Regions from separate parts of the Homo sapiens genome. Here regions 2, 3, 4, 5 and 6 are each linked to region 1. Evidence: fine-mapped expression QTL. A gene starts in region 1. Each other region holds a variant in brackets. All regions are shown on one strand. Distances are from middle to middle.

Region 1 (4,946 bases):
GGGGAAAATGTAGGTGTCAAGGGGATAGAGGCCCATGAAGGTAAAATCAGGGAGAAGGGAAAGGAGGAAATTATTAAAAAGAACCAAGGAGAGAGTTGAGGGCAGGGAAGTTAAGAGGTTATGTGAGGAAACTTGGAGTTTGAAGATTTTGAAGTGGAAGGGGAAAAGCAATGTAGAGTTTAATTCAGATCACTGAACTGAGCTCACGGAAATTGAAGCCGGGTGCTGGATGCAGGGCATTTTATGTGACTTAGAAGTTGTCAAGGGCCGGCGTGGTGGTTCACACCTGTAATCCCAGCACTTTGGAAGGCCGAGGTGGGTGGATCACGAGGTCAGCAGTTCAAGACCAGCGTGATCAACATGGTGAAACCCCGTCTCTACTGAAAATACAAAAAAAAAATTAGCTGGGCATGGTGGCTGGCGCCTGTAATCTCAGCGACTTGGGATGCTGAGGCAGTAGAATCACTCGAAACCGGAAGGCAGAGGTTGCAGTGAGCTGAGATTGTGCCACTGCACTCTAGCCTGGACAATAAGAGCAAAACTCGTCTTTAAAAAAAAAAAAAAAAAAGTTGTCATGGAGAAGAACATGAGCTAGGCGCCTCAAGTCTCCAGTGAGTCAAGATCATGGCAAGGAGGCCAAAAGATGTAAACTCACTTGGTGTGTTACCTCCCTTCTGTACTTTGAGATGCCAGCATAACACTGTAGGAGAAATGTTTAGCTGGGGACCATTCAAAATCAAGAAGCTGACTAGAAAATAACCACAAACCTTACGTTGTATTCTGGCAAAAAGTCTAGAGGCCCTCTCAAGGTTGGCATCTAAAATACATACAGAGGCTGGGCGCAATGGCTCATGCCTGTAATCCGAGCACTTTGGGAGGCTGAAGCAGGAGGATCACTTGAGCCCAGGAGTTCAAGAACTGCCTGAGCAACATAGGGAGACTGTGTCTCTACAAAAAAATTTAAAATTAGCCAGATGTGGTGGCACACACCTGTAGTCCCAGCTACTCCACAGGCTGAGACAGGAGGATGGCTTGAGCCTGGGAGGTCAAGGCTGCAGTGATCCATGATCGAGCTGCTGCACTCACTGGCAGTCTGGATTTCAGAGCAAGACTGTGTCTCAAAAACAAACAAACAAACAAAAACAGAATTTCCTTATTTAGCCTCTAAATTTAAAATCTTAATTTACAATTGTTATTCCACAGAACACTAGGCTCAGGAACAAGTGTGGAGTTGTTTTTTTATTTTTGGTAAAGACCAAAACCAGAAAGTTTAATGACCAAATCAGTCATTTTTACCATTTGAAAATTCTTACACTTCATATATTAACATCAATGAAATAATTTTAACAATTCAAGCTAGCAATCTGCTTTTATGCTGTACACTTTATAACATAAAAATTATCCTACTCCGTTTAAATCCAATTTTCTACCATCTTCTATTCTACAAACCCAAAATAACTGTATCACTGAGTAATCCTGGCCCATAAAGTAATCATACAGTTATGCTGTTCTGTGCATAAGTAGGAGATATTAAACAGTGCTTCGAAGCCCAGCACGGTGGCTCATGCCTGTAATTTCAGCACTTTTGGGAGGCGAAGGAGGGCGGATCACCTGGGGTCGGGAGTTCCAGACCAGCCTGGCCAACATGGTGAAACCCCGTCTCTACTAAAAATACAAAAATTGGCCGGGCTAGCGCGTCGTGGTGGACGCCTGTAATCCCAGCCACTCGAGAGGCTGAGGCAAGAGAATCTCTTAGATGGAGAATCTCCTAGATGTTTTTCATCTCTTAGATGGAAAACAAATCTGGAGTTTTGGTGAAAAGGACATTGATTGTGGCTGGAGGAGATAATTATAATAATAGCGTAGTTATCTTTCTGTGGGTTTCACGTCCAGAACATTTAAAACATATAAAACCCTTGCTGGGTCAGGGTTTTAGTCATCTTTGCAGCTCCCACGGACGGCATCCACCAAAGCGCTTTCCAAGTACTTCGTTGCTCAATAAACGTTTGTTGGAGAAACCGGTGCATAAAGGTGAAATAATAAAACGTGGACGGATTTCGGAAAGAGAAGGAACCCCGGAGCTCACGCTTTGCACGATCACCCCCACCAGCCCCAGGAGTTTTCGCGTAAATCGAAGCCCGGGGAGTGAGTCGCAGGCAGCGGCCCCCGGGGAAGGTGTTTCAGGCCGGCCCGGGTGGAGAGTGCTTCCCGCCGCCTCCCCGACCCTCTGCTGTTCCTCTCAAACTTCTTCTCAACCTTCCACGCCGGGGGGACGCCCAGGGACCGCCCATTCCCCGGGACCGCCCGTCTCCCCGCCCCCGCCTCCGCCCCCGCCCCCGACAAACTGAGCAATACCCAGAGAGGATGGAAATGGCGAAGAGGCCTGGCGCCTGCCCGCTCCCGCGCATGCTCCCTGACTTCACCAAGGTCACGCTGCAGCCCGCAGGAATGAAAATCCACTTCTCCGCATTTTCGAGGTGACCTGGAAGCGGTTCAACTGCTCTGGCTTCTCAGAAGAGGAGGGGACCGGGCGGTAACGAGGAGCCAAGGGGAGGAGACTGCTCGCAAAACCCGGAAAAGCTTTCCCGATCCACTCTGCCAGCCTCCGTGCGCCTCCAGACATGCGCAGTAGCCTCCCCCGCGGTGGCGGCGGCGGCGGCGGTGGCTGCCGTGGCGGCTGAGAGTCCAGAGCCGGACGTTCCGGCCGCTTCGGGCTGGCGGCTGGAGAGCGCTCGGGTCATGTCTGCCCAGGGGGACTGCGAGTTCCTGGTGCAGCGAGCCCGGGAGTTGGTGCCGCAAGACCTGTGGGCAGCCAAGGCGTGGCTGATCACGGCCCGCAGCCTCTACCCGGCAGACTTTAACATCCAGGTGAGGTCCCGGCTGTGCATGCGGCCGCTCTGCGTGGAGGTGCGCGCTCCCGTCGCCCGGGCTGCCCTGGCCCAGAGCTGCGCCTGCCTGGGGGCTGCCGCCTCCTGCCCGGCCCCCTGCTTTCTCCCCTCCCACCCCCTCCTCTCTCCCCTCCCATCCTACACCTTGCTCCTACACCTTTCACCCGCCTTGCTCCTACACCTTCCAGGAGCCCTCTCCCCAGCACTTGAGAGACGGCCGATCCCGCTTGAGGTCGGGTGTGCTTAGGTCCCTGGGGCTCAGCGTGCCATCTGGCCTAGACAGCACATGATCGCCACTAGCAAAAGGCCATTCGCTCCTTCATTCATCATAATGGCAGCAGTTTGTTCAGGGCCTGCGACTTTGGAAATATTATCCTACTTAATCCTGGGAGCCTGAGATTGCAGGTGAACCCCAGGGTCACACTCTAAGCCCAATGGCAAGTCTGCCATGTATGTGGCGCTGTGTCACCAGGCGGAGCTTCACTCTCAGGCCCTCCCTTCCTGCAGGAGGGCCAACGAGCGATGCTGGATGAGCTGGGAGCCTTCTGGGCAGGGGTGAGTGACCAGGGTGCCTGATGTGTGTTGCAGTATGAGATGTACACCATCGAGCGGAATGCAGAGCGGACCGCCACCGCCGGGAGGCTGCTGTACGACATGTGAGTGGGACGCTTGACATCACTTTTACTGCACTGAATCTCTCCATGAGGTTTTGTTTCTCTCTGCAGAAGTGGGAGTTGGGGGAAGATCTTCAAGTTCATCTATATCTTCGATACCTAAAGCAAACCTAGTAAGGAGTCCAGGCCTGCCATAAATTGCTGACATGGCTTTTGCAGAAGAGTTTAATTATTATTCTTATGTTTTATCCTTGTTAAAACTTCTGTTTCATAATTTATTCTAGAAATAATATGTGCTCATTACAAAAATTCAAACACTACTTGTTATAGAGAACAAAAAGTGAAAGTGCATCCTAAACTGAACCAGAGTTAAGTTTTGTAGGCAGTATATCTATACATGTATGCATAATACATAAATAAGGTTTTGGGGGGAAGGGGTTACAAAAGTGAGAAGACCATACTACCTTTGCCCTGCAGCATGTTTCCTTTACTCACTCTCATGGACCCCTTCCCATATCAGTATGTAGAGATCCACTTCATTCCTTTTCATGCCTGTGTAGTATTTCGTAGACACTCTCTTCTTGGTAGACATTTAAATAGATAGTTTTAAATTATTTGAAATTATATTCAGTGTGTCAACAATTTTGTAGTCATATTTTGGTGTTTTTCTGTGGAATAGATTCTAAGACATTTTCATAGTCAAAGTTTATGCGCATTTGAAAATTTGATACGCTATGAAATTACTCTCCAAAATGTGCGATCCCAGTCTACATTACCACCAATGGTGTATAAAGAGTGTGTTTTCCCATACCCTTCCCAACACTGGATATTATTAGTCTCTTTTTAGTTCTTGTCACTGTGATAGGAGAAAATGGTATCTTGCTATTTTAAAAAAAAATTTGTACTACTCATACTGTTAATAAGATTCAGTATTGTTTCAACTGTTCTCTTTGGCTGTGTGTATTCTGTGATTTGCCTTTGCCTATTTTTTCTTTCAAATAGTTTGTTTTATTCTTGTTGACTTTTAGAAGCTCTTTCTATGTTATGGTTACTTGTCTTTTCACCTATAAAACCCACTAAAGACTTATGTGAGTACTCTCATTTTTATAAATCAAGTAATTCTTATTTTTACATTTTTATTTTGGTTTGTTTTGGCACGTCTAAGCATTCACTTGGAATAAAGGAAACTTTTTCACCAAATGCTAACGTTTTTTCTTTTGGATACTGTATAGACTTTGACATTTTAATTTAATGTATTTATTTTAAAAATAGGTTTGTGAATTTCCCAGACCAGCCGGTGGTGTGGAGAGAAATCAGCATTATTACATCAGCATTAAGGAACGATTCACAGGACAAACAAACCCAATTTTTAAGAAGTAAGAATAATGGTGTATAAGTTACCATTTCGGGAATACCAAATCATATATAGTAATTTCACACACAA
Region 2 (4,985 bases), 48 kb before region 1:
CTGGGGTTCCCATACCTTACAGTCTGAGATAAAAGAGGTAACTAATAATATTTTTCAAAACATCCTATTTACAGGGCAGAAATAATAAAAATAGGTTCTTGGTAGGAAAGAATAATAGGAGGAAAATAGGAGGAAACCACTGATCTCTAATATTTCCTCTAAGAACAAGATAAATTCAGAATTGGGATTTGCCCACCCAACTCCCAGTCCAGTGATCCTTTGCTGTGCTATGTGTGGTCAGAAGGGTGAGGAAGTATCACAATGGAAAGGCCAACAAGATGGCGATGAATGCATATACTCCTTCAGTCATTTGCTTCATTCTTTACTCATATCATACCATGTTTTGTACTCTCATTGGGGTGATAATTAGTGCCATCTGTGTACTCTCATTTTATTAAGCCAATAACTAGAGTCATATCAACAGTGTTCACAGAACTAAAATAAGGAAGCTCTTTGTGTGTTTGTTTCTTTTCCCTCTCACAGAACAGATACTTCTCCTTCCTACTTTTTTTTTCTTTTTTACTAGCATCTTGGAAGACAACCAGTCCCAGGACCTATAAACAGTGCTTCCCTTCAGACACAGCTTTTATCTTGATTGGGCAGAGAAAGACAGACTGTTCCCTTGCTGATAAAGGGCTTTTTGAAGACTTTTACATAACTTCTGCAATTCACTGGAAAATAACACCCAGGAAAAGGCTGGGTGTTGGGGGTGGATAATAAACTTTTACTGCTATATGAAAAGTTACATTTTTCAGAGTAATATGGTGATTACAGATAAAATAACAAAATAAATTTTAATAACACCACATTGCCGAGTCATCAAAGAATTGGGCACTGGTCCAGTAACTTCTGGGAGAATTTGCACCTGTTGCCTCTTTCCCCAAGGATGGAGGAGGTTGCCGAAACCACCTCCTCCTGGGAGGGCTACCTGAAGCTCCAGTAAGCAATAGCACTGGCTAGGTCATCGTCTCTTCCAGTTCTGCCACCAACGAACTCATTCCAAGAAAATGTGGGAAATAATGCCTTATCTTGAAGTAAGTCAGAAGCTGTCACACGTACAAAGAAAAATGTTTTCTGGTCAGGGTTCCCTGTGGGCATGTCCTTGCAGATGCCTTGATGCGGCTCTGAATTTCTAGTTACAATTAACTGGCAATGAACTGAAGCTATGCTAGTTTAGATTAGGGGTTTTGAAAAGTCTCCTTGTATAATAATAGCATACCTAGTCTTAGCTTTTAGGTTTTCTTTCTTCAAAGGGAACATTCAGAGCCAGATAGAGGCAGAGGTCTGCCAGGCAGCTTCTTAGAGCAACAATCTATAAGAGGAAACTATAAGGGGGAACTCACATAACGCTAAAATAAATTGGAAATACAGCCCCACTTATCCCGAGTAAAATGTAATTGTCTCACTACTCTTGAAACAGGCATTTCGGAGTTGGAAGACAAACACCACCCCACCACACACACACACACACACATGCACGCACACAGTCACACACATACACACACACACACTCTGTTGAATATTTTGGCAATGTATACATGCTAAATAGTAATTTGCTGCCTTCAACTGAAATTCTAAAACCAAATAATACATGGCATAATACTTACAGAAGTGAGTGAATCTTTTATTATCCAAAATGTTAAACCCTTTAATATACCTCCCAAGGTGTTGTCTGGTTCAGAAACTCACAAAAGGAAATGGAAGGGCAAACTAGAACTGCTGAAAAAGTGGAAAACAAATTTAAACAAATTCATCATCAGCCAATGAAGTAAATTAAGTGACTCTAACTCTAGGTAATGTTCATTACTACAAAATACTTTCCCACTCCTACTAAATAAATGTTAAGTAATTACTTAAATGATATAAATTATGTTACATTACTAGCTTGCTTGGAGTGCTCACATGAAAGTCTTAATTACTCATACTTTCTCACCACCACAAAAGAAAGAAAGAAATAAGTTGCGGGGGTGT[G/A]GGGGTTAAGAAAGGAGGAAGAAAGAAAAGGACGGAGGGAGACAGGGAAGAAAATAATTGATTTCTGCCATTTTGGAAAACAGAGTGGTAGTTTCTTAAAAAGTTAAACACGTATCAGCCGGGAGCAGTGGCTCACGCCTGTAATCCCAGCACTTTGGGAGGCCAAGACGGGCAGATCACCTGAGGTCAAGAGTCTGAGACCAGCCTGGCCAACACGGCAAAACTACGTCTCTATTAAAAATACAAAAATTATCCGGGCTTGGTGGCAGGCGCCTATAATACCAGCTACTCAGGAGGCCGAGGCAGGAAGAATCCCTTGAACCTGGGGGAGGTGGAGGTTGCAGTGAGCCGAGATTGCACCAGTGGACTCCAGCCTGGGTGACAGAGTGAGACTCTGTCTCAAAAAAAAAAAAAAAAAAAAAAAGTTAAACACATATCAGCCATATGATCCAGCCATTCTACTCCCAGATATTTATCTAAGAGAAAGGGAAATACATTTCAATATAAAAATCTAAACACAAATGTTCATTGTGAGGTAAGAGGAAGGACTTGACTCAGGAGGTAGGACTTGACTACAGAGATAGGGCTTGGACACTGGACTGAGTTGAGGACTAGCTAAAACACAGAATGAGGCAGAAGCAGCTTTCCATTAGACACACCCACTACTGTGTTATGTCAGTTTACCACTGTCATGGCAACACCTGGAAGTTACCACTCCCTTCCATGGCAACAATCCAATGGCCCAGAAGTTACCACCCATTTTCTAAAGATTGCTGCATAATGCATCCTTCAATTTGCATGTCATTAAAAGTGGGTATAAATGTCAGTGCAGACCTGCCTCTGGGCTGCTACTCTGGTCACACTGCCTATGGGGTATCCCTGCTCCACAAGGAGCTGTACATTTGCCACTGCTGTACACTGCCATTTCAATAAAAGTTGCTGTCTAACACCACTGCCTTACTCACTCTTGAATACTTTCCTGGGTGAAGCCAAGAACACTCCTGCGCTAAGCCCCAGTGTTGGGATTTGCCTGCCCTGCATCATGAGCAGTATTATCTGTAACAGGCAAAAACTGTAAACAACCCAAATGTCCTTAGCAGGTAAATAAAGAAATTGTGGCATATAATAAAATGGGATACTGCTCAATCAGAAAATGGAATTAACTACTCAGACGCTCACCAACGAGGATAGGTCTCAAAATCATTATGCTGAGAAAAATAAACATACCAAAAAAGTCACATATTGTATGATTTCATTTATACAAAATTCTAAAAAATGCAAACTAACATAGCGACAGAAAGGAGATCAGTGGTTACTTGGGTATGGGGTATGTAAGAAGGCGTGGAAGGAAAGAATTACCAAGGGGTACTGGAAAACTTTTAGGGGGGATGGATATATTCACAATCTTGATTGTGGTGATGGTTTCACGGGGGTATACATATGTCGAAGCTTAGCAACTTGCGTATGCTAAAGTGTGCCAATTTTTTGTATGTTAATTATACCTCTCTACAACTACTTTAAAATTAATTTTTAAATTTAAAAAACAGGCCTCTGCATTTGAAAGAACATGTTCTCTATCTTGCTTTCAGTAAAAATCAGGAAGAACCTTTGGAGACTAAATTAAGTGATCCTGATTTTTTTGTTCAATGACTAAAACAGTGGTTCTCCAAATTTAGTATGCATGAGTGTATCTGAGATGCTAATTTGAAATGCAGTTTCCAGGGTTTTATATAGAGGTATGCTAGAAAATATTACTGATAAGAGAATGTGTAGGACCTAATTTACAAGTAATAATACATCCAATATTCTTTATTGTAAATGTAATAAATCTTACAAAATGCTTTTGTTGGCTTTTGCTAAACTCTTGTATCTGCAGTCAGCCTATGGCTGCAAGAGATGAACAAGTATAGTTCCAATTGAATGTTGGGTAATAATTTTGTTTACTCAGATGAAAGGATTACTTGAGGCCAGGAGTTCAAGATCAGCCTAAGCAACGTAGCGAGGCCCTGTCTCTAAAAAACTTTTTTTTTAAATTTCTCCAGGCACCATGGAATATACTTGTAGTCCCAGCTACTCAGGAGGCTGAGGCAGCAGGAGTGCTACAGTCCAGGAGCTTGAGAATACTAAGTTCATACTGCTGCACTCTAGCCTGGATGACAGAGCAAGACCTTGTCTCTTAAATCATAATAATAATTTTGTTTACATTAATGAGTAAAAATGAAGCATCATTTCTTAATCTCACATGACTTATTAATGATGTGAGAGACTTCTTTGATGAACTGGAAGATAGTTTTTGAAGACTGGGACAATAATTTCCTTAAGTTTATACTATTTATCATGTAACAACCACAGGCATGACACACTTTAAGTTTAATCTACATTATTAACATTTATTCCATCATTGTCTACATAACCAACAAAACAATAAATCAAGCCTGGTTGTATTTGACAAATGCCATGGTGTAAATATTCCCACATGGCCAATTTCAAGCTACCAGTGCATGTGAAGTTGGGAAGAGATGTACAGTAGCACACCAGTATCAGTATCTCCACCACACAGAAGTAATAGACATAACCTCAAAAGCACAGATAATAGCAACGTGTAGTAAAGTCAATAGGAAGTGATGAGTTTTGTATACTTATTATGCTTGTTTTTAACATAATTTATGTAACTGTGAGCTTCTACAATTTAATTTGTAATGATTTTTAGTAATGAGCTCATAAAATTCTTGAAATTTAATAGTTGGCTCTCAGGAACTGAAATAAGTTGGCTCTAACACACTGCTGGCTTCAGCTCAGCCCTAAGAAATGAGGTCCTTTGGGGATGGGGCTCAGGAACCTGCATTTCTAATATTGTCTAAGATGATTCTGATACACGATACTGGTGGAGAATCTAATTGCAATTTTCTTTTTAGCTAGTGTTATGATCTGAACATTTGTATTTCCCCAAAAATCCTGTATTGAAACATGATCCCAAGTGTGATGGCATTAAGAGATGTGGCACCCAAAGGGAG
Region 3 (4,985 bases), 200 kb after region 1:
TGCAGATGGAGGCAGAAATTAGAGAAAGTCCACAATCCAAGGAACACCAAGGATTGCCAGGTACCACTAGACACTTAGAGAGAGGCATGGAATTCTCCCTCCGAACCAATCCTACCGTCACCCTGATTTTGGATTTCTGGCTCCTAGAACTGTGAGAAAACAAATGGACTTGTTCTAAGCGGTATGAGTAATTTGTATAGTAATTCGTTATGCAGCCCTGGGAAACTAACATGTCCCCTAACTGGGCTTCCTTCCTCTGCCCTTGTCTCCCACAGTTGTCAGAGTGATCCTTCTGGAACCCAAGTCAGATCGCGCCGCTGCTCTGCTCAAAGTCGGTCAGCAGCTCACATCTCACTTGAAGCAAAAGCCAGGGTCTTTTCAAGGACCTTCAAAGCCCTTGGCACTGGGGAGGGACAATCTGGCCCTAGCTATCTTTCCAGGCACGTCTCTTAACCAACCTTCCCATCTCCCTCAGAACAGTAAGTTCTAGCCACACAGGAATGTCCCTGGTACATGGGTCCCACCTGCCGAGAATGCTTTTCTCCTCCAGATACTCCTCCTGCCTTATTTCCTTACAAATCTCTGCCCAAATATCACTGTATCAGTGGAGACCTCCTTGGGTCACTCTTCTCTCTCCATGCCCTTACTCTGCACCTGACATCATATATACATATAGATCAACACAAGTATAGATATGGCCAGAGATATAAAGCGTCTCCCAGTAGAACGCATTCTCCCTGAGGATAAGAATTTTAGTTTTTTAATTTTTATTTTAATTTTTTTGAGACAGGGTCTTGCTCTGTTGCCCAGGTTGGAGTGCAGTGGTGTAATCACAGCTCACTGCAGCCTCGACCTTCCTGGGCTCAGGTAAGGCATAAGGATTTTATTTCGTTTGCTGCTGCATTCCCATTAGCTATCTCTGAAATGCCATATCCTAGAGTTTTTGCCTATTTTTGAGCACATTACAGATTACTTTGCATTAAGGATATCTCTTATTATATGTCTTATGTCTCCTACAGGATTGAAAGCTTCTTGAAGATTGGAACTCTGTTTCAGTCATACCTGTTTCAGCCTTTCTCTCTGTCTAGCCTAAGACAGTACTTTGCAGATAGTCAATGTTCAAGACGTACTAATTGTTTGGACCATGACCTAGCCTTTTTAGGTATCAATCTGCACAAACTGAACTTTAAATTTCTTATTTTCTTAAAATGTTTAAGAATGAACTCACCTAAAGGATCTTGGACTTTTATAAGTATATCTTAGGAAGAAAGCAATCCTATAAAAAGATTGTAATCCAAACTGTTTGTTCAGTGAGAAATGTTCTTTTTTTTGACATTTATTAAATGTCAACAACACATCTAGTATATGGCATATTAAAAGCTGCTTCTTAAAAAAAATGCTAGGGACCATATATTGAAAGCACTGTAAACACTCATTAATTTCGACTCCCCCATTTTGAGATTTTGCTACTTCCAACAGGGAGGGAAAGGAGCTTGGGCTGAGATATCTGATCTAAATATACACATAAAATATTTGCTTATATTTTAACTAATATCCTGGGAAGTTGTTTAAACCACTTAAGTAGCCCTTTAAGAAACTGTTTCTTTTTTTTTTTTTTTTTTGAGACAGAGCCTTGCTCTGTTGCCTAGGCTGGAGTGCAGAGGCGTGATCTCGGCTCACTGCAATCTCTGCCTCCCAGGTTCAAGCGATTCTTGTTCCTCAGCCTCCTGAGTAGCTGGGGTTACAGGCGCATGCCACCGCACCCGGCTAATCTTTGTATTTTTAATAGAGATGGGATTTCGCCATGTTAGGCAGGTTGGTCTTGAACTCCTGACCTCAAGTGATCCACCCACCTCGGCCTCCCAAAGTGCTGGGATTACAGGTGTGAGCCACTCTGCCCAGCCAAAGACAATTGTTTCTTATTACCATACTTATAACTTCTTCAGATCAGGTTTCTAAAAATGAACTGATAAGAGAATTTAAGGCATTCCTGTTTATTCACTAATATAAGTTCCAAAACATTTCTTGAAAGTAGGATTCTCACCCATGAAAAGCAGAGGTGCCAGCAAGGCAGAGACTTGATCAGGTCATGGGCTGTCAGAATGATCTGCCCGAGGAGAAATCTGCAATGGGCATAAAGAGTCTGTAAAAGTTAGTCCTGGAACTTCAAAGTTAAAATGAACTTCATTCCAACAACCTCCACTCAATCTGTAGGAGTTTAAAATGCAATATAGAAGAAGAGTCACAGATAGGATTCACTTAACTACTTTTTTTCCTCTTCTTAACTTAAAATGACTATAATTTGATTTAATTTTCTTTGAGAAGAAACCACCCCCCAAAATTGTTC[T/C]CTTGGCTTTTGTTTCTGTGTTTACATAAGCAGAGAGATAACAGATAGAAAACAACACTGAGCTAGAAACAAGGGGAACTGATCCCAGACTTCTCCCTAACTTGCGTGCTCTTAGACGAGTCACTTTCCCTGGGCCCCAGTTTCCTCATTTGTAAAATTAGGGGTTTGGAATACTTGATTTCTCCAACAGTTCTAATGCTCTGAGATCTACATAGTTATATATAGTATTGTTGTGAAAATCTGACTTCTTATCAAATGTGAGTTCTTGGAAGTTTTGCCTTTTAGACTTAAGTCTTCATTATCATCTTCAAAATTTGTAAGATTAATCTCTGTATCTATGATCAAATATTCTCAAGAAGGCATTGTTCATCTAAAGACCTGAGATTTATAGGTAAAACAACTCAAAATAAATAAGAAGTTACCCAATGCCACCTTTAAATGTTTTTTTATTTATTTTTTTCTTGTACAATATTTATCTTAGCATTTTTTTAATTTTGTTTTTCTTTTGAGATGGACTCTCACTCCTTCACCCAGGCCAGAGCACAGTGGCACCATCATGGCTCACTGCAGCCTCAAACTCCCGGGCTCAAGTGAGCCTTAGTCACCTTAGCCTGTGAGTAGTTAGGACCACAGGTGTGCCACCACCATGACCAGGTACATTTTTTATTTTTTGTAGAGACAGGGGTCTCACTATGTTACCCAGGCTGGTCTTGAACTCCTGGGCTTAAGTGATCCTCCTGCCTCAGCCCTGCAAAGTGCTGGGATTATAGGCAGGAGCCACCACGCTTGGCCAAAAGTGATTTTAAACAGAAAAAGCCATCTCTTGGGCATCTCATTGAATTCTACTGAAATCGTATTAAAAGTTTTATTTAAAACATCTATAAATCTGTCAACAAAGAGGGGGAAAAAAGAGAGGAGAGAGAAAGACAGAGGAAGGGAAAGAGGGAATTTTAACTTTGAGCCCTGTGCTCATAGAAAGCGTCAGTGATTAAGAAATCGTGTTATGTTCTAAGAAACAATTAGCCACAAAGGCCCACCCTTCTCTGTGTATTCCCCAGGGTCCGTCCTCATGACTCCCCTAAAACTGCTAACGACTTTGTTTTCCAGCCTCTATAAAACTCCAGTTCCCTTCATTTCCTTTCCTCATTAATAACTGTTCTTCCTATGGCAATAACTTGAATAAAATCTCCCTAATTGCCTGGTAGATATTATCTTTGGCCATATATAGCTAACAGCATGTGCTGCGTGCTCTGATGAAATCATACCTGGTGCTACATTAATTAGGTGAACAAGGAAGGCCTCAGTGAGGAGGTGACATTTATACTAAGACCTAAATAACAGGAGGGAGTGAGCCATGGACTGAGCAAGAGGAAAAGCCTTCCAGGTGGGGATTGGGGGCGACCCGCGCAAATATTCTAATGCACGAATAGCTTGGTGTTCCGCAGAAGTCTAGAGCATAGTGAGCTGGGGAGTGGAGTGGGTTAGGGCACAGTCCAGTGGTAGCAGAGGAGGTTAGGAAAGAGAGATAACAGAGGAATGATCATGAAAGCCTTGCCGCACATGGTGAGAAAACTGGATCTTATTTAAAGCGCAACAGGGCCAGGTGCTGTGTCTCACGCCTGTAATCCCAGCACTTTGGGAGGCCAAGGCAGGTGGATCACCTGAGGTCAGGAGTTCGACACCAGCCTGGCCAACATGGTGAAACCCCATCTCTACTAAAAAAAAAAAAAAAATACAAAAATGAGCCAGGCATGGTGGTAGGCACCTGTAATCCCACCTACTTGGTAGGCTGAGGCAGGAGAATTGCTTGAACCCAGGAGGTGGAGGTTGCAGTGAGCCAAGATAGGCCACTGCACTGCAGCCTGGGTGACAGAACTAGACTCTGTCTCAAAATAATAATAAAATAAAATAAAGAAAAAGTAAAGTGCATTGGGAAGCACTAGAAGCATTTAAACAGAGGAACGACATGATTTGACGTCTTTTAAAAAGATGATTTTTGGCCACACATGGTGGCCCATGCCTGTAATCTCAGCAATTTGCGAGGCCAAAGCAGGAAGATGGCTTGAGGTCAGGAGTTCAAGACTAGCCTGGGCAGCATAGCGAGACGCTTTCTCTAAAAAAAATTTCAAAAATTAGCCAGGTGTGATGGTGCAGGCCTGCAGTCCCAGCTACTTGGGAAGCTGAGGTGGAGGATTGCTCGAATCCAGGAGTTTGAGGGTGCAGTGAGCAGTGGTTACACCACTGCACACTGCACTCCACCCTGGGTAATAGAGCAAGACTTCAACTATATAAGAAAAAAAAAGATGATTTTAGATGGCCAAGAGTGAGAGTAGGAAGCTTGTAGGCCACTGCAGCTATCCAGGTGCAATGGTGTGAATGTTTGTGTCCCTCCAAATTCATATGCTGAAACCTAATCACCAAGGTGATAGTATTAGAAGGTAGGACCTTTGGGAGGTGATCAGGTCATGGGGGGTAGAGTCTTCATGAATGGGATTAGTGCCCTTATGAAAGAGGCCCCAGAGAAACACCTTACTGCTTCCAGCATAAGAAGATGCAGCAAGAAGCCACCTTCTGTGAACCAGAAAGTGGGCCCTTACTAGACGCCAACTCTGCCAGCACCTTGATCATGGACTTCTCA
Region 4 (4,000 bases), 27 kb after region 1:
AAGCATCTTAAACAGTTGCCTTTCAAAGCTGTTATCTTTGATAATAACATACATTAACCTAACATTGTGGACTTCTGTTAGGTTCGGATCTGAAGCTCCTGCCTTGTACCAGCAAGGCTATCATGCCATACTGCCTCCATTTAATGTTAGCCTGTTTTAAGGTAAGCTTAAAGTTGATTAGCTTGAAAAAAAATGTAATTTCAAATATTATTCTCATGACTCGAGAACTTGAGAACCTTGCTAAGGATTGTTATTTTAGTACTTTTGAGGGCAGGCCCAAACAGTTAGAAAAGCACATGGGCTACTAATTAACAAATCTATATTAAATAATGACTGCGCTAGGCAAAGAGAAGTAGGAAGTTCTCCCCGTCCTCAAAAAGTGTAATAGTGGGACAGATATGCAAATAACCTTGACTGTTGTAGTGTTTGGTAAATATTTTATCAATATAAATATATTAGCTACAAAGAAAGGGAATACAAATTGCGGTTAGGTTCATGGAGGGATGATGAGTTTGTCATTGTAAAGATGTGCTAGATTAAGCATGTTAGGTGTTGAGATCAACACCAGTAACAGCCCAACAGTTGGGAAAGTTCCGGGACTTGAAAGAACGCCAAGGCCCTTGGCTACAGGTAGAGCAGAGCCTTAGAGCAGGGAGGCTTCATTGTTTCTGGAAGGTTTGTTGGCCAGAGAGTAAAACATTGGGTCTCCACTTCAGTGCAGTAACTCCCACTTAACTCATCATCCATATCACTTTTTTAGGGCAACAAAAACAATTTAAAGTGTGATTTTATGCATAACCGCTCATTTGAAACAAAAACTGTTTTGACCATTTCTTTAGTTCACACTTCTGCTTATTTCCTTGTGGCTCACCACCTTTCCTTCTCTGCAATCCCATGTTCTCTACAAACAGTTCTCTCCTGGATGGCCTCTTGCCCACCTACTCCCATCTGCTCCCTTTCAAAGAAATCTTCAGATTTATTTCTCCATTACACAGGATGAATCAGAGTTCTCTGCCCCTGATTCTCATATGCAAAAGCTTCAGGCCCACCCATGTCCAACTGCCATCTACACACTGCCAGCAGCTGTGCAGAGGGAGCCTGAGGCTTCTTTGGTTAGAATCCACCCTCCTTAGAAGGCAGCTGTGATGTTTACCAGCCATTTCGTTGTGCCTTTGTTTCCTTCTTACTCTAATGACGTTTATCACACATTTGCATATACAGCATATTTTTGGAAAGTGATGTTTGCTGTATTTCAGATTACCCTGTGACTTCCTTTTCCTTCTGTCTTGTATAAATCTTTGTCTTGCAGCTTAGAGCTTTCACAGACAACAGAGACGACATGGCATTGGGGCATGTGATTGTGTTGCTTCAGCAAGAGTGGCCACGGGGCGAGAATCTTTTCCTGAAAGCTGTCAATAAAATTTGCCAACAAGGAAATTTCCAATATGAGAATTTTTTCAATTACGTTACAAGTATCCTTTTTTCTTGTTTAAGCATAACACATTCTGATTTTCTTTAGAATGAATACATGATAGAAAAAGAATGAACCATTCTGGATAGAAATAATGATTTTTACTATTTTGCAGCGAAGAGAAGGAATGGGGATTAAAACTGGGGCTGTGGCAGTTGATCTTCTGAAAGTCGTGAAAGACATGATTCAAGGAATTGGGAATCTTACAACCCTCTTCCATTTTCCACTGCTAGGTGACTTCTAAGAAGGTAC[G/C]CAAAATGCCTCCAGTAATAGCCTACAGGTTGCTGATAGGTCCAGCTTGCCCGGTTTAGTCAAGGAATATAATACTAATAGTTCCTCTTCTTCCATCTGTCAAAAGAATGCCTCCTGTAGCCTCTGGGGACAGTGGCTGTGCCCTGCAATCACTTGTTAGGGCACCCTGCCATAGCTGTCTTACCTACCAATGAGTACCCACCAGAGATGCTGCACAGCACAGTAGCTGCTTCTGACATTAGGTAATGCTGTATTTCACACTGCTTATTAGGGAAAGACCTTTGAATTAAAGGTTAGTTATCAATTTGGGTGTTTTTACTTCATTGTTTATCTTATTACATTATTTCTGAATTGCAAGGAATATAAATGATATTCTTGTTCAGGTGCTCAGAGCAATAGTTTTTATTTTTATTTTGTTTTTTTTTAGAGTTGGGGTCTTGCTGTGTCACCCAGGCTGGAGTGTAGTGGTGTGATCATAGCTCACTGCAGTCTTAAACTCCTGGGCTCAAGAGACCCTCCTACCTCAGCCTTCTGAGTAGCTAGGACCACAGGTGTGCACTACCATACCAGGCCAAAGTAATAGTTTTTAACCATGGTTTGGGACAGATATCTTTTGAGAATCTAATGAAAGTTACATAATTTTTCACTAGAAAAATGCATACATGAATGTCATCGACATATTGCATAAAATTTGGGTGACTCACAGAAGCTTCCTCCTCTGATGCATCTATAAACCCTTGCACCCCAGTTATGAAGAAGTAATCACTTGATTTTTATGAATTTTATGTTCTGTAACACCAAAGAATCCTCCCTACTTTCACCTCCTCTTTCATTTCTTATTAAGAAAACAAAAAAATTTTGCTCTTGTGACCATGTAGTATTAATTATTATCGATATGGAAAACATGTTGTCCTCATGCTCTTTAGCCTGGCACATCTCATGCCAAGAGTTATCTGTGCGAGGGAGTTTAGTGGGTATAAGAATCAGGTTTTGGCATCAGACAGATCTGGGTTCAAATATGGAGTCTGCAGTTAGTGGGGTAGCAATGGGCAAGTTACTCAACTGCCAAGACCCCATTTCCTTATCAGAGAGAACTGGCACCTTTTTTAGTGGGATGGCAATGGGCAAGTTACTCAACTGCCGAGACCCCATTTCCTCATCAGAGAAAACTAGCACCTTTTTTTACATGTGGTTAACCTGAATCTGGCCTGCAGATATTGATATGCTGGAGGAATTTGCCTACTTGAGAACTCAGGAAGGTGGGAAAATTCATCTGGAATTACTACCCAATCAAGGAATGCTGATCAAGTAAGCATGTTCTCTTTTGCTCTTCCATGCTGAGTGCTCACCTTTTGTGTCTTTGTATGAAGTATTTGTAAATGTCTATACCTATCAAAAATTTAATACAAAGGACTTTAAACCTGGTCTCTGTTATGATAGTTTGATTCTGGGTACCTTTTGAAAAACTTGCATTTCCTTAACTACATTTCTTAAAACACTTTGCTTAAATTGGGGTATTTTTGTCACATTTGCAACTTTTTCACTAGACAAAAGTCTCATTCATGATATCTTTTACTTTCAAAAATTTATAGGGTGAGTCTATAAGTTTCTGATTAGTCACAGAGTGCCTTTAATTAAGAACAGTTGTGTGGCCAGGCATGGTGGCTCACGCCTGTAATCTCAACACTTTGGGAGGCCAAGGAGGACAGATCACCTAAGGCCAGGAATTCAGGACCAGCCTGGCCAACATGGTGAAACCCCGTCTCTACTAAAAATACAAAAAAAAAAAAAAAATTATGTGGGCATGATAGTGGGCACCTGTAATCCCAGCTACTTGGGAGGCTGAGGCAGGAGAACCGCTTGAACCCAGGAGGTGGAGGTTGCAGTGAGCCGAGGTCGCGCCATTACACTCCAGCCTGGGCAACAAGAGTGAAACTCCATCTCAAAAAAAAAAACAAACAAACAAAACAGCTGTGCTTAATTAAAATTGTGCTGGGTTAGAAAAATTCTTTAGGAAAAACTACAGACTTTTTATTTATAAACTACCTATGAAGCCCTCCTATGCAGTCCTCATGACTTACATAACAACGAAGTATTAATAGCCAGGTATAGTGCCTCTAAGAACACACCTGTCCCAAGAAATGATGGTGGGAGTGGTTGGTCTCCACCATGCTCCCCTGAACTCACAAGATGTTACTAAAATTCCGGGTTGGCCCAGATGAAAATGCCAAATTAGTGACCATTTATGATTTTTAAATAGCTCATAAATCTTGCTTC
Region 5 (4,688 bases), 62 kb before region 1:
GAAGATGAAGGAGAGGCAGGGAGACACCATGGCCTTTGCTAGCTGGGGGTTTGAGGATAAGCCAAACTCTTGCAGTTCTGGGGAAGCATTAGTCTGTGCAAATGGGATCTCTATAACCTTTTCATGTGCGCAGAATCCTAAAAGTAATCCAAAACATTTAGCTTAATCAGAGGGAAATGATATTTAAAATGTTCTACAACCTTCATCCAAAAGTTATTCCTCTTACCCTGTTCTCCTAAGATTACTGACCTAGACCTTGATTTTTTAAAAAAAACCAGATTGTCTTACCGTAAAATCCTGCCATGTAAATATCAGAATTGGATGTCTGATAATTTTCCAAACTCAGAGACATTCTGCTAGATAAGACAGGAAAACCACTGGTAAGATTTAAGACCTACAATGGGCTAAACTTTTCTCTGTTGCTAGTTTTTGTTGTGGTTTCGTTGGGTTTTGTCCATTTGCTTCTGAGACAAGGTCTTGAGATATTGCCTAGCGTGGTTTTGATATATTGAGTGCTTCAGAAATCCTACTACCTCAGCCTCCCAAGTAGCTGGGACCACCACACCTGGGTCTAACTGTTTCTAATTTTACTTACAGATTAAAGGTATTTAGTTTGTCACTCGAATTAAGTTTCATGGAAAACCTGAAAATATAATGTTCTCATTCATTTACATACAATATGGCAATATTTTCAGTAATAATGTTTGTTTATATACATTGTCAGTAATTTTTCTACCAAATAGCAAATTATTTCTGGCAAATAAAAACACAAACAAATAAAAACACCTTGGAGTTGTTCAATAAATATTCTCAAGCTCGACTAACTTCATTCACATTAGAATTTAGAAATAAGAAGTCTTCTCAAAAACACATAGAAGAAAGGTGACTTTCAGTGATGCATCTTGGAATGTGATAAAACACTTTTTAAAGGTGAGATTCAATGTGGCTCCATTTTCTTTTTTCAGTCTCGCTCTGTTGCCCAGGCTGGAGGGCAGTGGCCTGATCTCAGCTCAATGCAACCTCCGCCTCCCTGGTTCAGGCGATTCTCCTGCCTCAGCCTCCCGGGTAGCTAGGATTACAGGCATGTGCCACCATGCCCAGCTAATTTTTGTATTTTTAGTAGAGGTGGGGTTTCGCCCTGTTGGCCAGGCTGGTCTCAAACTCCTTACCTCAAGGTATCTGCCTGCCTCAGCCTCCCAAAGCGCTGGGATTATAGATGTGAGACATTTTTTAAAAAGGACAGATAACCAGAAGCTTCTGCTAGCCAGATAAAATTCCTTGAAAAACAACTTTTTTGCTGTTAATGATACAAATATCTATTTAGGAAATAAAACCATTTTAAACACATTAAAAGATAAAAATAAGCTGTACCAAAGACATACAAAGAAAACCACTGAAATACCTAGATGAAAACCATATACATATATATTTTCAAAGTTTAAAAAAGCATATATTTGGAAATTAGGATATATAAAATACAAATCCAAATTCTTACATCTCTTTTAAGCCCTTAACTCTAAAATTATTAAAAACAGTACCAAATCCATCATTTAAGACCACTTTAATTTATTTTTAGGCCTTTGGCTAATGCTTTTGACACAAGGTTGCCCTTTTCTAATAAAGTATTCCATGTCGTGAACCCAGGAAGTTAAATTTCTTTGCTACCTTAAAGGACAGGATAATGGTAATAAATGACAGCCTGGGGTGATACACTATGCTGAAGAGGTCCCCTAGTGGCGAAGCTCCTCTCCAACCCGGCTTTATAGGTTTTATAAGACTGCTTCATCATGAATGCAAAATCAATAGGTAATAAAGTCTACCCTAGCTTTGCCTCTGTAATAACCTCTATTAGCCCTAATATATAGTAGGGCTAACATTTAGAATCTCAAGGTCCTTTCATCAGGAATTATTAAAAGAAGGATGTGATCCAAAGAATAACTTCATTACATTCTGTATTTTAAATCAACAAATATTTATTTAGTCCTTATGCCCTGCCAGGCACTGTGTTAGACATGGAGGAAAGAGGAAAGATGAGGACCCTTGCAGACCTTACTGATATTTCTTTTTAATGTAATAACATGGCATTAAGAACAGAGCTAGAGCAACATGAAGATTGGTAAGTATCATTCATCATCATATGAACTTAGGATGGATTCTTAGGAAGATACAAGAAAAAGCTGAAGTATTGCCCCAAAGTTTCAACTCCTTATTTTCAACACCTATACTGGGCAGTATCTGAGATTCTCCAATAAATAATCAATAGATAAATGAATAGAAAGTAGG[G/A]TTACAAAGAAGAAGGAATTTTTACAATTTTTTTTAAATGTTGAAACATGCTGGAGTTGGGGATCCCTAAATGTAAAGAAAGACAAAAAAAAAAAAAAAAAAAAAAAAAGACAACATTTATGAAGTGCATACTGTGTGCTCGGGGCACTAGGATAAGTTCCCAAATGTAATTTCCTCCTGCTAAACATCTCTATAAGGTGAGGAATACTATTGGCATTTTACAAATTAGGACACCAAGGCTAGGAAAGGGGAAGTAACTTGCCCAAGGTCATGCAATTAATAAGTGGAAGAAGCCGCCTGGAGCTCAGGTCTCTGGAACAGCAAAGACACAAGCTCACTGCACTGTAATGTAAACGGATGAATCCAAATGTCGGAGATTCTGCTTTAAAACCCACTAATACATTTTACAAATAGACATATAAGATTTAGCACACAAAGATGAACAGGATTAAAGTATTTTGATATTGTATTATGTGGAGTACATATGGTGTGGCAGCTCAAGGCAGACGAATTATTAAATATGTACGGTGATCTTACAATGGGTATGGCCCGTCTCTTGCTTTCTAGGAATTGACCATCTTCCGGCAGCCCAACACCTAGTCCCCTGTGTATTATGCACTATTACAAAACGTGTTCAAGTCGCCTTTTATGCCTAAGGCTTACATAAAAATTCATCTTGCCTTTCTGCGTCTATTTCCAAGTTTGAAGGACCTTTCTCCCTCCAATTAGCAACATTTCAGCACTGCACAGGGCTTATTAATGCTCACTGTTGCAAGTAACACCAAGGTAATTTGACTTTCTTGTAGGAACAATGTCGACGAAATCCTACAGAATTAAATTTAAATTTCCAGTTTAAAAAAAAAAACCGTGAAAGAACACTTCATTACCTTTATTATCTAGACGTATCTAATGACGTTAAGTAAAAACTGCACCAAGGCTTTGAAACCAGAAGAAAAGTGGAGTTTGTGAAATTTAACCACTCCATGCTTTTTATTAGTATTTCACTTATGAGTATTTCCCGAGGCTCACTGTTTTGGCAGGCACAGTGCTGTTAACATCTCTTCCTTTCTCACCATTCTTTGCTCATCGATGAAAAGATAACTTCAAAATCTCTGACAGGAATGCAGGTGCAGGAAGTGCGACGGAAACAAACAACTTTGCCTCCGCTTCCTACAGCTTTCCTCTCCTCCCCGCCCTTCTAGCCCCCATCCCACCCCAAGATCATGCCCTCGAACAGCTTCTGCCCACCGATCGCACGTCCCCTGGGCATGTTCGGGCAGCGGTGACCCTCAGCCACATCCCCCACTAGCCCGGTCCCGGGCAGGCGAGCGCGCTGCCCACCGGCCACCCTCGTCACGCCCCCTCCACCCTCTCCATCCCAGCCACAATAATACAATAACCGCAGTCATCGCGCGGCACGTGGAAAGGCTACTTTTCAGTGGGTTTTGCAGAAAGCAATCAGACAGCGGAAGGCCACGAGAAACGCTGGTGAAGCCAAACCGACCCCGGGAGCGCAGCGGCCCCGGACCCTCCCTGGAAGCTCCCTCCGCGTCCCCGCGCGCCCACCTGGAGGCGCCGCGCCCTCCGCCTGCCAAGCCGGTCCCCGGCCCCTGCCCGTGCCCTGGGCCCCCGGCGGGCAGCGGCGGAGGGAGGCCAGGCGCGGCACCGTCCTCCGCAGCTGCACGAGCCACCCCGAGGTCGCGGGGTGGGCGGGCGCGAGCTAGGCGCGCGGGGCTGTGGGGATCTGCCGGCGCCACTGACGCCCCCGCGCGGCACACCGCGCCCGGCTGGCCCGGGAGGGGACCCGACTCACCCGAAGCGCCCTGCTAGCTGCCCGGCCCGGCTCCGGCCGCTGCCGCCGTCGCTGAACTTTCCCTCCTGCGCGGCCGCCGCGGACTCGGCTCCACCTCCCGCTCCGGCAGCCGCGGAGCCTCCAGGGACCCCGGGGGCGGGGAGCAGCGGCGGCGGCGGCGGCTCGGGCGGGCGGGCGCAACAGCGGCCAAGCCTGGCGCCCCGCCGCAGGGTAGGTCCGGCGGGGGCGGCCAAGGCCGGGCTGGGGTCGCGGTTGGCCGCGTACCTCCGCGTCACCCACGGCCTCTCTGCAGTGCGTCCCTGCGCCCGTCGGAGCGGCGCCCTGGCCGAAGCCTGTCACTCTCGGAAGGGGCCGCGCTCGGACACCAGGGGCGGTTTACGCGTGACTGGACACCAAGAGCCGGAGAAGTTTAGAGACTAGGACACTGTGGCGTGGCCCGAGTTGCAGGAGAGAGGTGTCCAATCTCCATGGGGTCCTTACTCTTGCAGGACAGAGTTCCCCATCCCCCTGCTCCACCCGCTCTGTTCCCTTGGCTGCCCTCCCCGCCGAGCGCCGACTTCCATGCAAAAACTTTGTAAATCGCACTTCGGGG
Region 6 (4,855 bases), 36 kb after region 1:
CTGACCTGTGCCACATTCTTGTGTCAGGACCCCACCTCCCGCTGCGTTTTCTTCAACATATGAGAGTCTAGATGGGCACAGCATTTAGAGGAGCTGCCCTATTCTGGTGTCCTGGGGAGAGAGACGTGCTTGTGACCCCGGCTGTGCAGGAGCCCTGAACCTTTCTGGGAGCACCAGCTGCGGGGGCCATGGTGGGAGCTCACTTGGGTGATTGGCTCATTCAGGTCTCCTCCCTCCTTGCTGCTGCCTCTGGAGGGTCTGCTGGCCGGGCTGGACATGAGCTCTTTGTAGCCAGTGTGGACTGGACCCATTTGGCCCTAAGTAACTGAATTGTGTACCAGTCAGCAGTAGGGATGCATAACACCAGAGCTTCATTGATTCAAAGGCAAAGCAGGTGGCATTTTACTGAACAATTAAATGTTTGAAGTAACCTTTTATAGAGTGAGAAAGATGTCTGTCTAGTTTTAAGTCTTTCTGAAGAGAAATGGGCTGGAATGTTTGGTTGGTTGCAGCTATTCTTGTGTTCTTTTTAAAATATCTGAAATTATACTTAGATATGGGGCAGGCTTTATTCCTACCCAAGTAGCAGCGATCAGCGATGCTGGTGCTAACCCCTGGTCTTTGTCTGTTTCCCTATTGCTGACCTCAGGCACCACACTGTAACTCGAGGCATCACCAAAGGCGTGAAGGAGGACTTTCGCCTGGCCATGGAGCGCCAGGTCTCCCGCTGTGGAGAGAATCTGATGGTGGTTCTGCACAGGTTCTGCATTAATGAGAAGATCTTGCTCCTTCAGACTCTGACCTGAGTGGAGACCTTTCCACCAGACACAGCTCGGGCCTGTGTAATTGTAGGAGAAGACACTCAGCAGTGATTGCCATGGCACAGAGCCGTGGTCATTGTTGCTGTTACAAAGAAGAAAACCATCTGAGTTCTAACTCCTTGGTTGCTTAAAAGTAGTTCCCAAGAGTCTGAGAAGCTATTTCTATTTTTAAGAGTCATTTTTTGTAATTTTTGTAAAACAAAAGTACCAATCTGTTTTGTAAATAAAAATCATCCTAAAATTTGAAGTTTTTAAAAATTTAATTCTTATGAGTTTTTGAACAGGGGTGCATTTTTCTTCTTTTCTAAGCATATAGCAAGGGGGAAAATCCAGCATAATTGAATTGAGTAATGAATTTTACTAATATAGATACTTACTTAAAAGACATATGTCTTCCATGACCTTAAGATTTTATTTTCCATAGTTAGGCTTTGGTCGGTATTGCATATCAACATAATATTAGACGTTTTCATTCAGGTGATCTCTTTTTTAGAAACAAGGTCTCACTCTACACCCAGGTTAGAGTGCAGTGGCACGATCATAACTCACTGCAGCCTCAAACTCCTGGCCTCAAGCAATCCTCCTGCCTCCAACCTCCCAAGTAGCTGGGACTACAAGTATACACCACCATGCTCAGCTATTTTTTTTTAATTTTATGTAGAGACAGGGTCTCACTATGTTACTCAGGTGGGTCTCAAACATCTGGCCTCCAGCAATCCCACCTCAGCCTCCCAAAGTGTTGGTATAACAGGCATGAGCCACCATACCTGGCCTCATTCGGGAAGTTTTAACACCAAAAACATTTATGTAAAAATGAATTTGAGCCTGACCTCTCCCACTGATGGTCCCCTGAAGGAGAGGTGCTCAGGGCTGCTGAAAAGCCCAGGACAGGAAGTGGAGGTGAGAGGCAAGGTGTGGCAGAGCAGCCTCCCCATTGCTGTCTGGCTCCAGGAAGTCCCTGCTGCTGTGCCAGGGTGGCCCAGTGGTTTCTACCCAGGGGCTTTGGAGCCAGGTGGCCTTGTGTGGCTTTGCATCCTGGCTTTGCCCTGCCCTTACTTGCTATGTGACCGTGGACAAGGTAACTTCTGTGTGCCTCAAGCTCTTTGTCTGAAAACGGAGCTGAGTGGTCCTCCCCT[T/C]GCTGGTTATTGGGAGGATGAAATGTTGCTCCACGTGAAATGCTTGGGAGAGGGCCTTGAGTGTAGTTAGTGCTGGCCAACATTAGCTATTAGGCTAATTTTTTTTTTTAATTAGGCTAATTTTATTTTCCTTTTGCTCTTCATGAAATTATACAGAAGACAAACATCAATAAAATTTGTTTCAAGGGAGTATTTAAGAATGAAAGAGCTAAGAAGTTTTGCAGTTACTCTGCATAAAAGGTCTTAGAAATCTTTTCTAAATAAAGATCCTTTTTATAGCTATATTAAAATCAATAAGATGGTTTAAATAAGAGACATCTGATCTCAAAAATATCAACTAGCTTGTTTTGCAGTGTTTATTAGTGTAATATGAGTTTATTACAAATATATAAGCTATCCTTTTTTTAGTGATGGGATGTGCTGCCACCTAAAAGCTCCCAAATTAAACACTCTCACCTTTAGGTTTTCTAACACTATTAGGGTTCTTCAGAGGGACCGAACTATTGGATAGATGTATATATGAAAGGGAGTTTGTTAAGGAGAATTAGCTGACATGATCAGAAGGTGAAGCTCCACAGCAGGCCGTCTGCGAGCCAAGGAAGAAGGAAGCCCACAGTGGCTCAGTCCAAGTCCAAAAGCCTCAAAAGCAGGGAGGCCAACAGTGCATCCTTCAGTCTGTGGCCAAAGGCCCGAGAGCCCATGACCAACCACTGGTGTAAGTCCAAGAGTCCAAAGGCCAAAGAACCTGGAGTCTGATGTCCAAAGGCAGGAAGCATCCAGCACGGGAGAAAGATGAAAGCCAGAAGACTCAGCAAGTCAGCTTATCCCACCTTCCGCCTACTTTGTTCTACCCTCGCTGGTGTCTACCCAGCTTGAGGGTGGGTCTTTCTCTCCCGATCCATTGACTCAAATGTTAATCTCCTCTGGCAAAAGCCTCACAGACACACCCAGAAACAATACCAGCTATCTAGGCATCCTTCAATGCAATCAAGTTGACACCTAATATTAACCATCACGAACAGCTTCCTCAGCTCAGTGTTTCAGGAGCAGTGCACATCACAACAAGACTTTCTAATACCCCAAAATGTAGGTACTAGCTAAAAGAGGATTAACCATCTTTTTTAAAATTCAGTGGTGCCACTTCTCTGTGAAGAGGCTGCAGGGAAAGGGCCACAGAATAAAATGGAAACTCAGACTGAATTTGCAGAAAAAGAAGGAGCTGGGAGAAAACTGCAGACCTCTCAGCACATAATGGCTCCATCCAAATCGCTGCACTAAGAGACCTGACCAAACTCTAGCTTGGCTACCAGCAGCTTAAGGCCATGACCCCAGTCCCGCTTAAAATGCCTGCCTGAGAAAGCTCCATGCTACCAAAATTTATTCCAGACCAAACCAGGTGATAGGCAGATAGGCCCCTGGACTCTCGCTTAGAATAGTTACTTTAAAAAGGTTGCAATTACACATCCTTTGCCCTTTGAGATGCAAAGTGACCCCCCAGAGCTGTTTTCTCAAGAACCCAAGAGCTGGCTTTTTGAAATCCATTCAGGGAATCAACTCTTGCTCCCAGTCCCTGTGACAGGGAACATTTGAGCTGGGTTTGGACCACTGTAACATTTAGACTCCTACAGGAGATGTACTGTTGCCATGGCAATCCTGCTCCCTAACAAAGGAACTGCAGGCTCAGGCTTTTGGTGTCTGCTTGTCTGAGTAACGAATGAGGCAAAGCTACCATCGGGATGACCTTAAGGCAGGCAGAAGATACAGCGGTGCATAGGAGGCTTGACTGACCTTGGATATCTCGTCCCAGACATTCCCCTCACCTGGCAGCGGGGTGCACCCTGCGTGCACAGCATCCTCCTCCTACGCTTAGGTCCATCTGGATGTAGAGTCCCTCCTGGGAAAAGGGGAACTGCCAGAAAGAGACACCTGCCCCTCACTCGTCACCAAATGCAGGTTCCTGGGGAAAATGATGCTAGTAAGACCTGCCTCTGGGTTTCCTAAGCAGCAGAACAGCTCCCTCGCTGCAATCCATTGAAAGTCAGTCCTGGACACCAGGGTTTGTCCACCCATATGGAGGCTCCAAGCATCTATGCATCCATCCCTCTCGATCCCTAGGACTTCGGACCCGGAGCCACACTGTGGGGCGGCAGTGATCAGGTACCCTCCTGGCAACCCGACTCAATGCCCCGCCTCCTCGCCACCCTGCCAGGATGCACCCTGGGCTGGGACAAAGTTGGGGAGCGGTGGGGATAGCAGAGATGGATGGGTAGCCCCCTGCATCCTCAGGGTTGACCAGCAGTCTGCCAGGCTCGGTCTCTCTTCTGCAGTCCATCAACCTCCAAAGACTCACATCGATAGGCCCCTGCCTGCCTTAGGCCAGGGGTCCCCATTAGACTGTAGCCAAGGGACAGCCCATTGAGACAGTGGACTAGCTCAAGGCCTCGAGCTGCTGGGTCGAGACCAGTTGTCCGGCTGCCACCTTAGACGAGAGGCTAGGGCCAACCTAGAGAGGGGCCCACGGGGACCCAGACTGGCAGCGGGGGTAAAACAGAGAATCATTCCTCAGGTGGGGTGGGGCCCAAGGTTTATGGGAAAAATGTTATTGTTATTAGAAATATTTATCTGTAAATATGAAATCACAGAAATTGTAATACAGTCTTCTATAACATTAAATATAAATTGTAGGGGTTATAAATGATAAATCCATGTGAAAAACAAATAAACGTGAACAGTTATTTTTATTTTTTTAGAGACAGGGTCTTGCTCTGTCACCCAGAGTAACAGTCACCCTGGAGTGCAGTGCCGCGACCATGGCTCATGGCAGCCTCCTGGGCTTAAGCGATCCTCCTGCCTCAGCTTCTGAGTAGCTGGGACCACTGGCACATGCCATTATGCCCG

Which allele goes with the higher level. Positions count from the first base shown, and alleles are read on the strand shown. Sizes are in standard deviations (SD) of each study's normalised expression. Not every link is listed here.
For the expression in testis of the gene that starts at base 2,618 in region 1, allele G in region 2 goes with a lower level than allele A (small effect, 0.23 SD a copy in GTEx).
With allele C in place of G in region 4, the expression in unexposed skin of the gene that starts at base 2,618 in region 1 is lower (small effect, 0.25 SD a copy in GTEx).

What was found. PIP is the estimated chance that this variant, and not a neighbour inherited with it, causes the effect.
Region 2: its variant is fine-mapped to the expression of INTS10 in testis (GTEx, PIP above 0.99).
Region 3: its variant is fine-mapped to the expression of INTS10 in whole blood (INTERVAL, PIP 0.98).
Region 4: its variant is fine-mapped to the expression of INTS10 in unexposed skin (GTEx, PIP above 0.99). The same link has a PIP of 0.9 or more in NK cells, Th17 cells, Th2 cells, esophagus mucosa, ileum and memory regulatory T cells.
Region 5: its variant is fine-mapped to the expression of INTS10 in whole blood (INTERVAL, PIP above 0.99).
Region 6: its variant is fine-mapped to the expression of INTS10 in blood mononuclear cells (TOPMed, PIP above 0.99). The same link has a PIP of 0.9 or more in monocytes after R848 and whole blood.

The regions. Positions count from the first base shown.
Region 1 is chr8:19,814,799-19,819,744 of GRCh38, forward strand. INTS10 (integrator complex subunit 10) reads left to right here and starts at 2,618. Exons shown (of 17, transcript NM_018142.4): 1 at 2,618-2,868; 2 at 3,477-3,544; 3 at 4,775-4,878. The coding sequence starts at 2,740. RefSeq lists silencers at 2,199-2,338, 2,859-2,988 and enhancers at 2,489-2,568, 2,609-2,668, 3,169-3,258, 3,469-3,558.
Region 2 is chr8:19,767,053-19,772,037 of GRCh38, forward strand. The region is part of intron 2 of LOC107986920 (a long non-coding RNA gene); the gene reads right to left. Among named protein-coding and RNA genes, the nearest start is that of CSGALNACT1, 12 kb to the left of the region's middle. The variant G/A (reference allele first, on the strand shown) is at 1,972.
Region 3 is chr8:20,014,151-20,019,135 of GRCh38, forward strand. No RefSeq gene overlaps it. Among named protein-coding and RNA genes, the nearest start is that of LPL, 77 kb to the left of the region's middle. The variant T/C (reference allele first, on the strand shown) is at 2,348.
Region 4 is chr8:19,842,767-19,846,766 of GRCh38, forward strand. INTS10 (integrator complex subunit 10) reads left to right here. Exons shown (of 17, transcript NM_018142.4): 14 at 82-161; 15 at 1,310-1,472; 16 at 2,938-3,031. Among named protein-coding and RNA genes, the nearest start is that of INTS10, 27 kb to the left of the region's middle. RefSeq lists an enhancer at 1,163-1,262. The variant G/C (reference allele first, on the strand shown) is at 1,724.
Region 5 is chr8:19,753,090-19,757,777 of GRCh38, forward strand. It overlaps CSGALNACT1 (chondroitin sulfate N-acetylgalactosaminyltransferase 1), which reads right to left and starts at 4,188. Exons shown (of 9, transcript NM_001354483.2): 1 at 4,097-4,188. The variant G/A (reference allele first, on the strand shown) is at 2,284.
Region 6 is chr8:19,851,000-19,855,854 of GRCh38, forward strand. It overlaps INTS10 (integrator complex subunit 10), which reads left to right. Exons shown (of 17, transcript NM_018142.4): 17 at 650-1,068. The coding sequence ends at 806. LOC124901901 (a long non-coding RNA gene) reads left to right here and starts at 2,898. Exons shown (of 2, transcript XR_007060843.1): 1 at 2,898-4,114. The variant T/C (reference allele first, on the strand shown) is at 1,958.